Regions from separate parts of the Homo sapiens genome. Here region 2 is linked to region 1. A link means that fine-mapping ties the variant in region 1 to the plasma level of a protein whose gene starts in the linked region. Region 1 holds a variant in brackets. A gene starts in the other region. All regions are shown on their reverse strands.

Region 1 (8,560 bases):
TCTCCTTCCTTCTTTCCTTGCTTCATTCTTGTAGATTCCTTGGAATTTTCTACATAAACAATTATGTCATCTGCAAACAGGGCTACTTTTGTCTCCCTTTATTATCTAAAAGGATATGTCTTTTATTTCTGTATCTTGCCTTATTGCACTGGCTAGAACTCCTAGTACTACATTGAATAGAAATAGTAAGACCAAACTTTGCCTTGTTTTTAGTGTTAGGGGGACAGCATTCAATTTTTCACCACTAAGTATAATGTTAGCTATAGGAATTTTGTAGATACTCTTTTCCAAGTTGGGGAAGTTCCACTTTCTTCCTATTTGTCTAGGAGTTGTTATCATGAGTAATTGTTGAATTTTGTCAAATGCTTTTTTCTGCATCAATTGGAATGATAATGTGATTTTTTTTTCTCTTTTTCCTGTTAATATGAAGAATTAGATTGGTTTATTTGTAAAAATTGAACCAGCCTTGCGTCTTCAGAGCAAACCACACTTGGTCAGTGTATAATTCTTCTCATATATTGCTAAATTCTACCCATTAATATTTTGTTAGGGATTTTTTATGTCTATGTTTATAAGGTATATTGGTCTGTAGTTCTTTTTGGTTCTGTCTTTGTCTGATTTTGGTATCAGGAGAATACTAACTTCAAAAAATGAATTGGTAAAAGTTCTCTCTTCTTCTACATTATGGAAAATATTGTGAAGAACTGATGGATATTCTTCTCTAAATTAACCACTGAAAGTATCTGGGCCTGGAATTTTCTTTTTCTGAATTTTTAAAATTGTGAATTTAATTTACTCAATAGTTATAAGGTTATCCAAATTATCTCATGTTGAGAAAGCTGTGGTATTGTGTGTTTTCGAATAATAGTCTATTTCATCTAAATTGTCAAATTTATGGGCATAGAATTTTCCTTAGTATTATCTTACTACCATTTTGATGTGCACAGAGTATATACTAATATAATCTGTCTCACTCTAGTAGCTTGTGTCTTCTTGTTAGTCTTGCCAGAGGGTTGTCACTTTTATTGATCTTTTAAAAGATCTAGCTCTTTGTTTCGTTGTTGTTCCCTATTATTTTTCTGTTTTCAATTTCATTGATTCTTGCTCCTATCTTTATTATTTACTTACTTCTGCATTCTTTGCATTTATTTTTCTCTTTATATTTTCTAGATTCTTGAGGTGGGAGCTTAGGTCACTGGTTTGAAACTTTTCTGTTTCTTAAAATAAGCTGTAAGTTTCCCTCTCAGCACTGTTTTGGCTATGTTCCACCAATTTGACGTGTTGTATTTTCATTTTCATTCTGTTCAACGTATTTTTATTTCTTTTGAGGTTTTTAAATTTTTTGAGGTTTGCTTTATGTTCCATGTTACAGTCCATCTTGGTTTATGTTCTTGGGCACTTGAAAATAATGCATTCTGCTGTTGTTGGGTAGAGTGTTCCAAAAATGTCCATAGATCCTATATGCTAAGGGTGTTAAGATTTTTTATGTGTTTTGATTTTCTGTCTAGTTGTTCTCTCAATTGTTGAGAGAGGAGTGTTGAAGTCTGTAACTGTAATTGTAGACTTGTCTGTTTCTCCTTTTAGTTCTATCAGTTTTCACATCACATATTTTGTAGCTGTCATGTTTGGTGCATACCTTTAGCAGTGCCCTATCTTCTTGGTGGATTGACACTTTTGTTAATATAGACTGTCTTTCTATGTCTCAATTATTTTCTTTGTTCTGATGTCACTTTATCTGATATTAATATAGCCGCTCTTGCTATCTTTTAATTAATATTTGCATGATGTGTTATTTTTGACCCTTTTGCTTTCAACCTATCTATATCACCCTATACACAGCATATAATTGGTTCATGTTTTTTAATCCACTCTGACCATCTGTCTTTAAATTTTTGCCTTTACATTATTCAAAATTAATATAATTATTAATATATTAAGTTTCAGACTGTCTTTTTATTTCTTGTTTTCTGTTTGTTCTCCTTGTTTTCTCATTTCTTTTTTTTCTTCCTTGGCTTACCATGCATGACTTGGGCATTTTTTAGAGTTTTATTTTGATTTATACATGGTGCTTTGGGGTGCATCTCTCTGAGTAGTTTTTTAGTAGTTACTCCAGGTATTACATTTTGTATATATAACTTTTCATGGTCTACGTGCATCAACAGTTTGAAGTGTGGAAAGTTTACCATCCTTTACATCCTATTGCCCTCCCTTGTTTATAATAGTCTAAAATGTTTTCTCTACATCTATTTAGAATCACATCAGTGTTATAATTTTCACTTCAATTATCAAACATAATTGAGAAAATTCAAAAGGAGAAGGAGAGCTAATTGAATTTACCATCTTTGTTTACCGAATTCTTTCTTCTTTCCTGATGATTCTTGATTCCTTCTTTCATCATGTCCCTTCTGTTTAGAGAACTTCTTTCCACTTTGTTAGTGTACTTATTTGGGTAATCAAGCTAATCTGAGGATAGCTTGACTTCCTCCTAATTCCTAAATGATATTTGCACTGGACATAGGTTTCTGGTTGACAGTTCCTTTTTTTCTAACACTTTAAAAATGTTGTATCACTTCTTCTGACCCCTGTGGTTTCTGATGAGAAATATGCTGTCATTTGAATTGGTTTTCTCTTTAGAGATAAAATGTTGTTTCTCTCATTGCTTTTAAGACTTTCTTTGTCTTCAGTTTTCAGAACTTTAATTAGGATGTGTCTTGGTGTGAATTTCTTTGATGTATCCTATTGGTCATTCACTTCTTGAATCCGTAGGTTTATGGGTTTTGTCAAATTGGGGGATTTTTCAATTATTATTTCTTTGAGTACTTTTTTAGCTCCATCTTCTTTTTTTATCTTTTCCTGGAACCCCAAATGATATAAATTTAGTTTTTGTTATAGTCCCACAGGTCCCTGAGGCTCTGCTCTCTTTGTTTTTCATTCCATCTTCTTTCTGTTGTACAGAGTCAGTCATTTCTATTGTATCTTCCAGTTCACTTATTCTTTCCTCTGTTCTCTCCATTCTGCTGTTGAGCCCATCTACTGAGATTCTTATTTCAGTTGTTATATTTTTCAGTTCTAACATTTCCATTTGGTTGTTTATATTTACTGTTTCTTTGCTGAGATGATTTTATTGGTGATTTTTTATTGTTTCACTTGTTTCAAGTATGTTCACTATTACTCATTGAAGCATTTTTATAATAACTGCTTTAAAACCTTTTCCAGATAATTTTAGCATCACTGTCATCTTGATATTAGTGTCTACCGATGGCTTTTTTCATTCAGTTTGATATTTTCTGGTTCTTGGTATTGTGAGTGATTTTTTGATTGAAAACTATGCATTTTGGTATTCTATGATGAAATTCTGGATCTTATTTAAACCTTGTCTTAGGTAACATCCTGTGATGCTGCACCATCAGGGGAGGGTGATACACTGCAACCTCTGTGACCACCAAGGTTGGGAGATGCTCCTCGTTGCTGCTGGGGTGGGGTGCTGGCTCCCACTAGGCCCCTGCTGATCCCACTCTGGTTGGGAAGGGTAGAGGTCCCTAATTTCTGCTCCCCAGATGGTCTCCACTGACGCTACCAGGGGGTGGCCTCATTACTATTGGAGCCAGTGGTTAAAGTCTTGACTCTCCCCATTTGGCCTTCTCTGACACCACCGCAGTGGGGAGGGGGCAGACTGACCTATTATTGCTGGGTAGAGGAAGAAGTCCAGGCTCCCCAGATGGTCTCCAGTGTCACTGTAGTGAGGCAGGAGGGGAAGGGAGGCCTCATTACTGCCAAGTGGAGATGAAAACCCCAGCTCCCTACTAGGCCTCCTCTGACAACCATAGTGGTGAGGTTGCATTGCCTCATTGTAGTCTCGTGAGTGTGGAGTCTGCACTCCCCACTGGGCCTTTCCTGGCATGGGTGAAGGTGGGACCACATATTTTTCTGTGCTGCCTGGCAGGAGGAGTCTTCTGTTTCCCCTACCCCTTCCCCTCTTCCTCCTCCTTCTTCTCTTTCTCCTACTCTTTCTTCTCCTCATTTTTTTCTCCTCCTCTCCTCCTTATCCTCCTCCTCATTTACCTCCTCTTCTTCTCCTCTTCTTCCTTTCTCTCTTCCTCTTCCTTCTCCTCCTCCTCCTTCTTCTACCCCTTCTTCTCTCTTTTTTTTTTTT[C/TC]CTTTGTGTGCGTTAGCTTTTTCCAGGTTGCCAGCTTCTTCAGCTCTAACTCTGGAATGTATGAGGCACAAACAAAATTCAGGGAGTTCCTGCTGTGTCATTCTTTGGGTCTTGAGGTTCCTAGCTTGGTCTACTTTCTAGTTCTTACCTTTCAGAATCTTTTATGTTTGTTTTAAACGTAATGTCCAGTGTTTTTAGTTGGACTTAGCAGAAGGAATAGGGATGAGTATGTCTCCAGCATCTTCCTGGGAAAAATGTGCATTTTTGAAATATATATTGTATGGTTGGGTGTTATTTTTCATCCAATCTGAGAGCCTTCCACTTTTAATAGAAGGTTTGTCTCACTTATGTAATAAATCTTAATCCTGATATTGAATGTTATGTTTTGTGTACTTTCAAAATGTAACACATTAATCAATTATCAATAGGCTGTTATTAGCTGCCCTTTCCATCAGGCAAGGTTTTCAGGAACACACCAAGTTGCCTTGTTCCCATCCCAATTCCAGTTTTTTACTATTATTATTATTTTATAGAGACAGAGTCTTGCTGTATTGCCCAGGCTAGAGTACAGTGGTTCAATCATACCTTAATGTAACCTCAAATTTCTAGGTTCAGGTGATTCCCCAGCCTCAACCTCCTGAATAACTGGAACTACAGGCATGTACCACCTTGCCTGGCTAATTTACTTTTTAGAATTTTTTGTAGAGATCTATGTTGCCCAGGCTGGTCTTGAACTCCTGGCCTCAAGTGATCCTTCTTCCTCAGCCTCCCAAAGTGCTGGGATTATAGGCATGAGACACTGCCCTGGCTCATCCTGTCATTTTTACAGTTCTAGAAGAGATAAAGGTGGAAAGATTTTCCCAAAGATGAAAACATTCCATCAGGAGACCCAAGAAGAGGAAGTGATTGGTTGACTGGGGCCTTCATGGTGGCCATTTTTCTGACATTTCATCCAGAACTAATTCCCTCCCTCCTTTTTTTATCCTTCCCTTCCTTGCTTCTTGTGTACTGGGCATTTTCCTGGGTTCTGGGAGAGGAAGGGAGCAGATCAAACCAGTATTTTTCTTTTTCCCCATCTCAAAGTTTTTATCTATGGTGCTTTGTGGGTTTCTTTTTTTCCAATAGACTTTTGAACATTGTGAAATTAGCCAAAAAGAAAGCAGCTAAAATTTAGTAAGGGCAAGAGGAAGAGTTAAGCAGGTGCAGAGAGCAGAAATCTTCAAGTCTCTTAACGTTTCCAGTTTTTAATCAGGGTGCAAATGTGGTTGGTTGACGGCAGGGAGCTGCTTCAGTGTGACTGCTAGGCTTTGCTGCCTTCGTCAATCCATCCAGCGTGACTTCCCATATAACTTTAGTGTTTACATCCCCCTCACTGTGTGCTGAAAAGTCTGGGATCCCCCTAGACACCTGGTAATTCTGTTAATGTCTGCTAGTCTGGATCCATATCTCAGAAGCTCCCTGATGGAATTTCTCCGTGCTCTTGGCAAGTCACAAAAGAGATGTCTCCTGGGAACTTTAGCATCTTGATCTCTATTTAAATGGTGAAATGATAAGTCTTGGCCAGGCCCTGTTCTCTCCTCCCACTAACTTTAGTCTCCGAGAGCCAAATTTTGCTCTCAGTTTCCTATATATGACTTCTACCAAATCCTTCTAATTTTCTTTTGTCTCTAGTGATTTCCTCTCCTGCTGTCCTGTCTTCTAAAGCAGTCTGAAATGAAATCTGCCCCCAGAGCTGTGCACAGAGGAAATGGAGAACAGATCATTCAAGAAGGAACACCCCACCCGCAAGCCGTGCTAGACTCGCATGGGTAGGCATCCCCAAAGCGTTGCACCCTCCACGCCTGGGCGGCTCGCTGCTTTTCTGAACACCAGGATTTGTACTTCCTAGCTGGTTCTCCATTTAGATACTTATTTAGATGCTTGACAATGAAGTATCAAGGAGCAGAGCAGGTGTAATGTCCTCATATACTGCTGCCATCTGTGCGCTCATATGCTCCTCTTAGGCAGTCGGGCACATGTAGAGCTTGCTTCTGATGGCATTTGGATTGGAAAGACATTGGCCCATTTCTCCTTATAGCAGAACTTTGTGGAGGAGCTAGGCGAAGTGTAAATGCACAGACAGCAGAGCAGATCTGTTTGTGGCAAGAGAGGGAACCCCTCTGCCTTCCCCCTCCTAATCCCCTACCACCCCTCTCCCTCTCTACTCCTGGCCCCTGGCCTGGACACCATGCTTTCAGAATAATTCTAGAGCAACTATTAGCTGTTGATGGCTTCTGCTGCATTCCCTCCCAGAGACACCTAACTTTGACATTAACTACTGGAAGGCCCGTAAAGTCTTCCGAGCCAAGGAAGGAATATTGAATGCTATAATTTCAAGACAGCTATAGGTCAGCTGGGGAAATGTGCACAGCAAGAATGGAAGTTTCTGGATACCCCTCCCCTGGGAAGGCAGCTGTCTGGGGCCCCTATTTTGGCAGTCAGCTCTCAAGGCATGCATCAGTGCACCTGAAACACTCTATAAATGGAAAAGTCAGAACACAACGTGTCACATCGACACCACCAGCATGCACAGTGGAACCCACACAGTTGGTTAAATTTAAATTCCTGCAGAGACATGGGGACTTAGCTCAAATATCACCTCCTCAGGGGAGTCTTCCCTAAACCCAGGTTGAGTTGAGTGCCCAACTGAGTGCTCCACTAGCTTCCCAAATTCCTTTGCTCTCGGCACTTAGCCCACTCCAAGGTGCTGAAGTGTCTGTCTCACCTATTTGTCAAGGAGCTACCTGAGGGTGAGGGCCACATTTTATGGATATTTGTGCCCTCAGTGCCTAGCACAGTGCTGGACACATAGTAGGCACTCAAAAATGTTTCCGAAGAGGGACCATGCCAGCTGCGTCCAGAAAGCCACCAAAATGACCCTTTTGCTGACTTACTATGGAGCCTGGCATACTACCATGAAATTTTTTTTTTTTTTTTTTTTGGAGACAGAGTCTTGCTCTGTCACCCAGGCTGAAGTGCAGTGGTGCGATCTCGGCTCACTGCAACCTCCGCCTCCTGGGTTAAAGCGATTCTCCTGCCTCAGCCTCCTGAGTAGCTGGGACTACAGGCATGTGCCACCACACCCGGCTAATTTTTTGTATTTTTAGTAGAGATGGGGTTTCACCGTGTTAGCCAGGATGGTCTCTATCTCCTGACCTCATGATCCACCCACCTCAGCCTCCCAAAGTGCTGGGATTACAGGCGTGAGCCACCATGCCTGGCCTAAATATATATATATTTTTTTGAGTTAAAAAGTTAGCCCTATGCCTCAAAGATCCCTTTCCAAAACTGAAGCTCATTAGGAGGGATAATTGTTACCAATAATTTGGGGGGTTGGTTTGAGCTGAGCTTTGCAGAATACTTGACATAGGCTTGGCACTTGCAGGGGACCTCTAGGAGTGAAGAGAGTGAAGTATCCCGGGCTTCAATGGCATAGGAATGAGAGAAAACCATTTGTTGCTAGAAGTGTAGGTCTGAAACCTGATTTCTATGTCACCAGTAGTTCTTCTCCCAACTTTTTTTTTTTTTTAAAGTTGGGGTCTTGCTGTGTCACACAGGCTGGAGGGCAGTGGCATAAACATAGCTCACTGCCACCTCGAACTCCTGAGCTCAAACAATGCTCCTGCCTTAGCCTCCAAATCTTTTCCCTTATTAAATATAAAAACATTAGAATATACTCTTCAAGTGAGCCAGGTACTAGAAAAACACTACCTGACACACAATAGGGACTCAGTAAACATTTGTTGAACAACTTATTTTAGGAACACTGCCAGCCACACTCTTACTTCTTTCTGTGTGGCTCTAGCTTACGAGGATAAGAGAAGGTGGAGGGAAAGCTAGAAGGGGCCAGGGCTGGATTCCAAACCACAGCCCACCCACAACTCTTTATCTGCCACTCTTTATTACCTGTGTTATGGGAACTCTGCCACTCTTTATCAGCTGTGTTATGGGAATTCAGAACAAGGACTGACACTACTGATCCTGGACTGGGTTTGGAAATGCAGTCATACCCCAGAAAAGAATCCCCTTTTTTCCATGTGGAGGCCCAATCCCATTCCCAGCCCCAGATGACTGAATGGTGATGTGGGTACATGTGATGCATTCACAGGGTGTGTGGCCACAACGGGCAGCCCCTGAGTGCCTCCACTTGAGAGGCAGAGGGAAGCCCTTGCTGGTCGGAGCTTAGGACTCTCTCAATGGCATGGGGCCAAGATGAGGTCCTTGGGCATGGCAAGAGCCACCTGCAGAAGGAAGGACATCATGGTTTGCACTGTGCATGATGGAAGGTGTGTGTAGTTAATTATTGGCTGCTAGGTTTGGTGCTTAAACTAGCTACCACCTACACAGGTTGAGAAAAGGAAGAAAAAG
Region 2 (8,560 bases), not on the chromosome of region 1:
CATATCACTGTTCCCAGTGCACTTATATTTTAAAATAGGACAGAGAAGGAAGAATAATGCTTTCCATAAAAATAGGAATTAGGCTGGGTGCAGTGGCTCACACCTGCAATCCCAGCACTTTGGGAGGCCAAAGTTGGAGGATCACTTGAGCTAAGGAATTAGAGACCAGCACCAGGAACATGGCCAGACCTTGTCTCTACTAAAAATAGATTTTTTTAAAAAAAGCAGCGAAGTGCGGTGGCACAAGCCTGTAGTCCCAGCTCCTTGGGAGGCTAAGGTGGGAGGGTCACTTGAGCCCAGGAGATTGAGGCCGCAGTGAGCCATGATTGTACTACTGCACTCCAGCCTCAGCAACCTAGCAAGATTCCAACTCAAAAATAAATAAAAAAGGACAGTGAAGGGAAAATAATGCTTTCCATAAAAATATGGGTTAGGCTGGGCACAGTGGCTCACACCTGTAATCCTAGCATTTAAGGAGGCTGAAGCAGGAGGATCATTTGAGCCCAGGAGTTTGAGACTAACCTGGGTAACATAGTGTAACTCTGTCTCTGCAAAAAACTTAAATTATAGCACTTTAGGCCTCCTGGGGAAGATATTTGAGGCAATATTTAGACAAGTCAGAAAAAACATAAATATGACCTAATTTTAATATTGTGCAATTTATTCACACCCCTCCCCACCCTCACTTTTCATTGTAAGTGACACTGAGTAATTTGTTTAAAAGAACAAGTTCTGTTTCAAGAATGTATTCTTTCTTTGAAACAACCAAAAGTACCTGTTTGGGGAAAAAGTCATTTGCTAGTTTTGTTCTCATAAAAGTTTAATAGAAGGCAACTAAAGTTTAAGATCTCCCAGAGGACAAATAAAGATATTTCTCAGCAAATGTAGAATCGCAATTTTCATTGGTGCTGGGGGATTTTACACACAAATGCAATTTTATTTTACTTTTAAAAGAGGTAAGTAAATAGACAAATCAATTTTAGCTGCTCTGAAATGTCATACCGGGTCATTAATTTTAAAAGATGAGACTTCAATAATAGTTAAAAGAACAAAGGCCCAAGGGTAAAGACTGAGAATAATCACCTTCAAAATTCTGAATTATCAGCAGCCTCAGATCAGAATCAAGAGGAGCCTAATTCAGTTTCCTTGTGATGTTCTCCATTGCATTTTTTACCTTCAAAATATAGGTTCAAATGGAATTCCCTTTTACAAAAACAGAAACCCTCTTTCCTTAAAGCACGAGGACCTCCTCTGTGTGCTGGATACTAGGATGAATTCTGGCAAAACCAAGCTCGATAAAATAAAGACCTATTGTCTAATCTACATTCAGATCGGAGGTATGAGACTTGCACCTGGCCATCTCTGTGGTGGAGACAGAGATATAAACATAATATTTGGTATGATATAAAATTTAAATGAGGCCAGGCATGGTGGCTCATGCCTGTAATCTCAGCACTTTGGGAGGCCAACGCGGGTTTATCACTTGAGCTTAGGAGTTCGAGACCAGCCTGGGCAATATGACGAAATCTTCTCTCTACAAAAAATACAAAAATTATCCTGGCATGGTGGTGTGCGCTTGTAGTCGTAACTACTTGGAGGGCTGAAGCAGGAGAATCGCTTGAGTGCAGGAGTTCGAACTGCAGTGAGTCATGATTGCACCGCTGCACTCCAGCCTGGGAGACAGAGTGAGACCCTCAAAAAAATTACATATTTTATATATATAACATATATATATAAATATATATATATAACATATATATATAAATATATATATATAACATATATATATATATAATGTTAAATAGACAAATACAAGCAGCAGTTTAATGCACACTTGAGGGAAAGACAAGAGAGAGAGTGATCTTCCCAAATAACATCACATTCAGACTTATTCTGAAATAATCAGGAGTTTCTCAAGAGGAACTCCACACTCACCACCATCAAATCAGACAGTCCAAGTTAAACAATTGTACTGTTTTGTGAAAATAATAATTATGACAATCATGGAATTAAGGTTTTGACATTCTAGGCAATGTGAATTTGGAGAGCATCACAAAGAGTCTGTGCTATGTAAATTCTCTAAGCCTCAGTATACTCATCTGTAAAAGAGGTTTATAGAGCTGTGATGTGATCGTGTGTATAAGGCAACTGACAGTCCCAGGAACATGGTAGCTTCTCTTTTGACTGAAATGGGACATTAATCTACATTAACAACATAAGTTTAGCCCAGGTGTGGTGGCTCATGCCTGTAATCCCAGCACTTTGGGAGGCCGAGGTGGGCAGACCACCTGAGGTCAGGAGTTCGAGAGCAGCCTTGCCAACATGGCGAAACCCCATCTGTACTAAAAAATACAAAAAAAAAAAATAGCCGGGCGTAGTGGCGCACACCTGTAGTCCTGGCTACTCAGGAGGCTGAGGCAGGAGAATAGCTTGAACTCAGAAGGCAGAAGTTGCAGTGAGCCTAGATCGTACCACTGCACTCCAGCCTGGGTGACAGAAAGAGACTCCATCTCAAAATAATAATAATAATAATAAGAAGAAGAAGTTTAATTGTGTAGTTTTTGCTATTGTTTTTACACATTCTGGTTGATTTCCTGTATCTGGTTTTCAGAGCAAAGAACTGGTCTCTGACTAAAGAACTGAAAAAAGGACTAAAGAACTGAAAAAAGCTTAAGCTACTGAAATTCTTTACTGAATAAAGATATGCTTTTAATTTTAGCTACATGGGATAACTCAACAGATTGATTTTACACTAGAATTTTTCTAACGATTACCCAGAATTCTGTTTCAATCCTTTGAGGGTATCTAATCCTGCTAGGGTATTTTTTAATGACAGTTTTATTGAGATATAACTTACATATCATAAAATTCACCTATTCAAAGCGTACAAGTCAATGGTTGTAATATATTCACAGAGTTGGAAACCATCAATACAATCAATTTAAAATATTTGTGTTATCCCAGAAGAAAATCTCATACCCATTAGCAGTAACTTCTTATTTTTCCCAAACTCCCTCCATCCCCCGGCAGCCCTAGGCAACCATGAATCTATTTTCTATCTCTATAGATTTGCTTATCCTGGACATTTCATATAAGTGGAATCATGCAGTGTGTGATCTTTTGTGACTGACTTCTTTTACTTAGCTTCATGTGTTCAAGGTTCATCCATGTTGTAGTATCAGTGCTTCTTTTGATGGCTGAATAATATTTCACGGCATGGATATACCACATATTCTTTATCCATTCATCAGTTGCTGGACATTTGGGCTGTTTTCACTCTTTGGCCATTATAACTAATTCTTCTGTGAATATTCACATATAAATTTTTATGTAGACACATGATTTTAACTCTCTTGGGTGGGTATTTGCCTAGGAATGCAATTACTCAGTCGTATGGGAACTCCACATTTAACCTTTTGACGAACTGCCAGGCTGTTTTCCAAATTGGCCACCTCACTTTACCTCCCCAGCAACAGTATGTGAGGGTTCCAGTGTTTCCACATCTTCATCAACAGTTGTTATTGTCCTTTTCATTTCAGCCATTGGAGTGGGTGTGAAGAGGTATCTCAGTGTGGTTTTCATTTGCATTTCCAATAGCTAATGATATGGAGCAGATGTTCCTAGGCACCTTTGCTGTTGGTACATCTTCTCTGGAGATATGTCTGTTCAAATTCTTTATCCCATGCTTAAACTGGGTTATTTTACTTTTTTCTTTCTATCTTTCTTTCGTTTTTTGAGAAAGGTCTTGCTCTGTCACCCAGACTGGAGTACAGTGGCACGAACACGACTCACCAGAGCCTCAAACTCCTGGGCTCAAGCTATCCTCCCACCTCAACCTCCCAAAGTGCTGGTATTACAGGCTAAAGTGGGTTATTTTTCTTTTTATTGTTTGGTTTTAAGAGTTTTTGACATATTCTAAATAAAAGTTCCTTGTCAGATATGTCTTTGCAAATATTTTTCCCATGCTGTGGCTTGTCTTTTCACTTCCTTGTATTTTATTTTATTTTATTTCAGACAGAGTCTTGCTCTGTTGACCAGGCTGGAGTGCAGTGGCACGATCTCAGCTCACTGCAACCTTCGCCTCCCGAGTTCAAGCCATTCTCCTGTCTCAGCCTTTGAGTAGCTGGGATTACAGGCACCTGCCACCACACCTGGCTAATTTTTGTGTTTTTTAGTAGAGACAGGGTTTCACCATGCTGGTCAGGCTGGTCTTAAACTCCTGACCTCAGGTGATCTGCCTACCTTGGCTTCCCAAAGTGCTGGGATTAGAGACGTGAGCCACTGCATCCGGTCTTTTTTCACTTTCTTCATGGTATCCTTTGAAGCACAAAAGCTTTTAATTTTGGTGAAATCCAGTTTATCTATTTTTTTCTTTTGTTGTGTCTGCTTTTGTATCTTATTGAAGAAACCATTGGGTAGGTGCGGCGGCTCATGCCTGTAATCCCAGCTCTTTGGGAGGCCAAGGTGGGTGGATCACCTGAGATCAGGAGTTCGAGACCAGCCTGGCCAACATGGCAAAACCCCATCTCTAGTAAAAATATAAAACTTAGCCGGGTGTGGTGGCACACGCCTGTAATCCCAACTTCTCGGGAGGCTGAGGCAGGAGAATCGCATGAATCCAGGAGGCAGGGGAGTTGGCAGTGAGCTGAGATCATACCACTGCACTCCAGCCTAGGCGACAGAGTAAGATTCTGTCTCAAAAAAAAAAAAAAAAAAAAAGAAAGAAACAAAATGAAGGTCATGAAGATTTATGCCTATGTTTTCTTCTAAGAATTTTATAGTTTTGCCTCTTACTTTTAGGTCTTTGATCCCATTGGAATTCATTTTTGTCTATGCTGCGAGGCATTCTTTTGCATGTGGATATGCACCACTTATTGAAAGGCTGATCTTTTCCCCGCTGAATTGTCTTGACACTCTTGTCAAAAATCAATTGACCCTAAATGCGAGAGTTTATTTTTGACTCTCAATTCTATTAAATTGATCTGTATGTCTCTAATATTTTTTAAAATAACTTTTTCTGCCTGCATTTGTACAGAATAAAACGTTTGTAAATATAGAAACACAGAATAAAAGTAAGAGAAACACTAACCCTGCCGTGGTAGAATGAACTGTTGGTCCCATTTCTTCACTCCCCACTAGGAGTTGTCCATGTCCACATCCTTATCATGGCCTTATCATGGTGGAATGTACTTTGGGCTTCGTCCATTTGACTCCGGGCTTGGCCATGCAATTTGCTCAGCCTCTTGAGATGTCAGGGAATGTGACATGAGCAGATGCTTGATGCGTGCTTGTGCAGTTGGTCCTGCTCTCTTGCACTTTTGCTGTCACCATAAAAAGATTATGCCCTGGGTAGCCACTGGTTCCAAATGAATGGCAGATACTTGGAACAAATCTGAACTCACTTTGTGATCTGGATCCCAGCCCAAGATTAAGCAGACCCCAGTCAAAACTCAGACACATGGGCTACAAATACATGCCTATCACAGTTTACCACTGAGGGTTCTGTGGTTGCTTGTTCTGTAGCAATAGCTGACTAATACACCTACCACTTAGAGATAACTATTCCTGTTAGTCTGATCTTCTGACCAAAAATAAGACTGTAAAAAAAAATTACATGTGTGTATACCCTCCTGTTGTTTTTACTTAACATTTTTTCATAATACCCTATGTTATTAAAAGTTCTTGATTGGCTCATACCTGTAATCCCAGCACTTTGGGAGGCCAAGGTGGGAGGATCACAAGCCAGGAGTTTGAGACCACCCTGGCCAACATGGTGAAACCCTCTCCCTACTAAAAATACAAAAATTATCTGGCATGGTGGCACATGCCTGCAATCCCAGCTACTCCGGGGGCTAAGGCACGAGAATCACTTGAACCCAGGAGGCAGAGACTGCAGTGAGCCGAGATCCTGCCACTGCACTCCAGCCTGGGTGACAGGGCACCACCCTGTCTCAAAAGAAAAAAAAAAGTTATTGATAAACATTCCTTTTGACATCCACATCACATATTTCAACCTTGAGCAGTTACATATTTCTCTTCACCATTCCTATAGTACTTTTACTATTTTACTATTGTAAAGGTACAATGAATTTTGCTCTCTTTTGTATAAATCTTGATCTACATTTTTCCATTATTTCCATGGAATCAAGTTCTAGAAGTTGATACCTTTAATAAGCTCCTTTAACCAAAGTTCATGGTAGAGCCACTGAACCATGATTTTCGTTTTATTACTATTCATATTTCTATTTGGCTAAACTCACATTGTTTTGCTTAAAGGATGCAGACACATTTAATTTCACTTTTTAAAAAAACGACTTTTGTGAATTCTTCCAGCATGTTCTATCATACTGTCTTTGGACGTTTACACTTTATTATAAAGAATTAAATTATTGCCATAAAAAACCAAACAGGCCTCGCTCAGTGGCTCACGTCTGTAATCCCAGCACTTTGGGAGGCCGAGGTGGGTGGATCACCTGTCAGGAGTTCAAGACCAGACTGACCAGCGTGGTGAAACCCCATCTCTACTAAAAATACAAAAAAATTAGCTGGGTGTGGTGGCGGGGGCCTGTAATCCCAGCTACTCAGGAGGCTGAGGCAGGAGAATCGGTTGAACCCGGGAGGTGGAGGTTGTGGTGAGCTGAGATCGCGCCATTGCACTCCAGCCTAGGCAACAAGACTGAAATTCCATCTCAAAACAAACAAACAACCCCCCCGCAACCCCCCGCCAGAAAAAAAAAAAGTCCCTGCCTCTCATTTTTTCGTTTGTGCTTATACAGAAACATAGAGACAGTGTTTCTGTATGAGCATGTGTTTGCTTTGTTTGTTTGTTTGTTTTTATTGGCGTAGTTAATTAAAGATCATATACCCAGGAAGGTGGTATGGAAGGAGCAGCCAGATCTAATTTTCTTTATACCCTTCACCGCGCCTAGCATAGTGCATAGGTGCATTCAATGAATATTTGAGTAAATGAATGTAAGAAATATACAGACCATTGGCTGAGTGTGGTGGCTCACACCTGTAATCCCAGAACTTTAAGAGGCCAAGGCGGGTGCATCACTTGAGGTCAGGAATTTGAGACAAGCCTGGCCAACATGGTGAAACCCCATCTCTACCAAAAATACAAAAAATTAGCCAGGCGTGGTGGCGGGTGCCTGTAATCCCAACTACTCGGGAGGCTGAGGCAAGAGAATCGCTTGAACCTGGGAGGCAGAGGTTGCAGTGAGCAGAGATTGCGCCACTGCACTCCAGCCTGGGCGACAGAGTGAGACTTCATCTCAAAAAATATACATATATATATACGGAGAGAGGCCATTAAAGCAGGCTTTTAAGCCAGAAATTACTGTCTTCCCAATGATTAATAAGTATTTTTAAGGTTTCATTAGTGACAAATATGTTACATGTATAAACAGATGGGCAGGACTTAAAAGAGTAGGCCAGATAGTTGATACTATATCTAAACTTTTCTGGGTGCCTCTTAGCAAATAAATGGATCTCTCTCTGTTCCTTGTTTTACTTCCCCTTTCCCCGAGGAAAATCACATTTTTCAGGTCTGACAACAATTTTCAACCTGATAACAATTGCTCCGGTTTCATTTTGGCAACTGCTAAAATGGTCACCTTGGGAACCCCAGGCACACACGCTGACTGTACTTGCACAGCTTCTACACTGAGCCTTTTGGAAATTGCCTCCAGGAAGCCTGTCTCTCATCTCACAAACAGAACCACTGATCCAACCTGGGCCACCATCTTTCTGCATCTGCTCTGTCTGAGACTCTCCCAGTCAGCTCCTAAGGAGACAGGGAATCCTGCATCACTCATCGCTTAGGCTAGACTGAAGGTCTCCTTCCAAAGGCAACTACTTACTACTCTCTGCCGTGGGTCATACAATAAGCACTACTCTTATCTATTCACACGCTAAGCTACTTTTTTAAAGCCAGCTTTGCTAGCTAGCCACCTCGAAATTCCCCAGAAGGAATCAAACAGAAATGGAACAAAGGACAGGAAAAGCCAAGGAGGTTTGCTGAAATTGAAGCATTCTGAAGACAGCTGGGTGGTAAAATGGATGTGACGTGAGGAAGGTGGTCTTGGGTGCACCCACAGACCAACACTGCCATTGTTACAATTTGTGTAGGATGATCTCAGGTGACAGACAGCAGCAATTTATCACACCCAGAAACGCATCCCCCACACATATTTACTTGAGGGTACCAGACCTGCTCACAAAGCAGAGAAGAGCTAAGGCGGTTCTCTAAGGGCAGAGAATTGCTGCTATTGCCTAGTGAGTGGGGAGAGGGTACTCCTCAGGCCTTACTTCCTATCAAATCATGTGTCAGTGTTGCCTAGGAGACAGAGGCACAGTAACTACTGTAGCCAAACAAGGCACATAAACAAAACAGAAATGCAACGCTTTAGAGTACCCACGGAAAACTTGTTTACCTTGTCACCATGAGTAAAAGTTAATTCCCACTCCTGAAGAGAGCAAACCAACTCTGAAAGAGAGTGAAAATGCAGACAAGACAGTTATCAGATAATGGCTATCTGGACGAGAGATTCTTTCGTTT

Alleles and levels. Positions count from the first base shown, and alleles are read on the strand shown. Strength reflects both the effect of a copy and how common the allele is.
For the plasma level of the protein whose gene starts at base 8,385 in region 2, allele TC in region 1 goes with a lower level than allele C (weak association).

Evidence for each region. PIP is the chance, under the fine-mapping model, that this variant and not a neighbour inherited with it causes the effect. Protein levels are from antibody-based Olink assays in UK Biobank. Linkage for the fine-mapping came from a reference panel and not from the study's own genotypes, which makes the PIPs less certain.
Region 2: IL5RA starts here. The variant in region 1 is fine-mapped to the plasma level of the IL5RA protein (UK Biobank, PIP 0.96).

Annotation. Positions count from the first base shown.
Region 1 is chr2:111,055,362-111,063,921 of GRCh38, reverse strand. The region is part of intron 16 of ACOXL (acyl-CoA oxidase like); the gene reads right to left. Among named protein-coding and RNA genes, the nearest start is that of ACOXL-AS1, 56 kb to the left of the region's middle. RefSeq lists an enhancer at 6,428-6,627. The variant C/TC (reference allele first, on the strand shown) is at 4,154.
Region 2 is chr3:3,110,199-3,118,758 of GRCh38, reverse strand. IL5RA (interleukin 5 receptor subunit alpha) reads left to right here and starts at 8,385. Exons shown (of 12, transcript NM_175726.4): 1 at 8,385-8,560.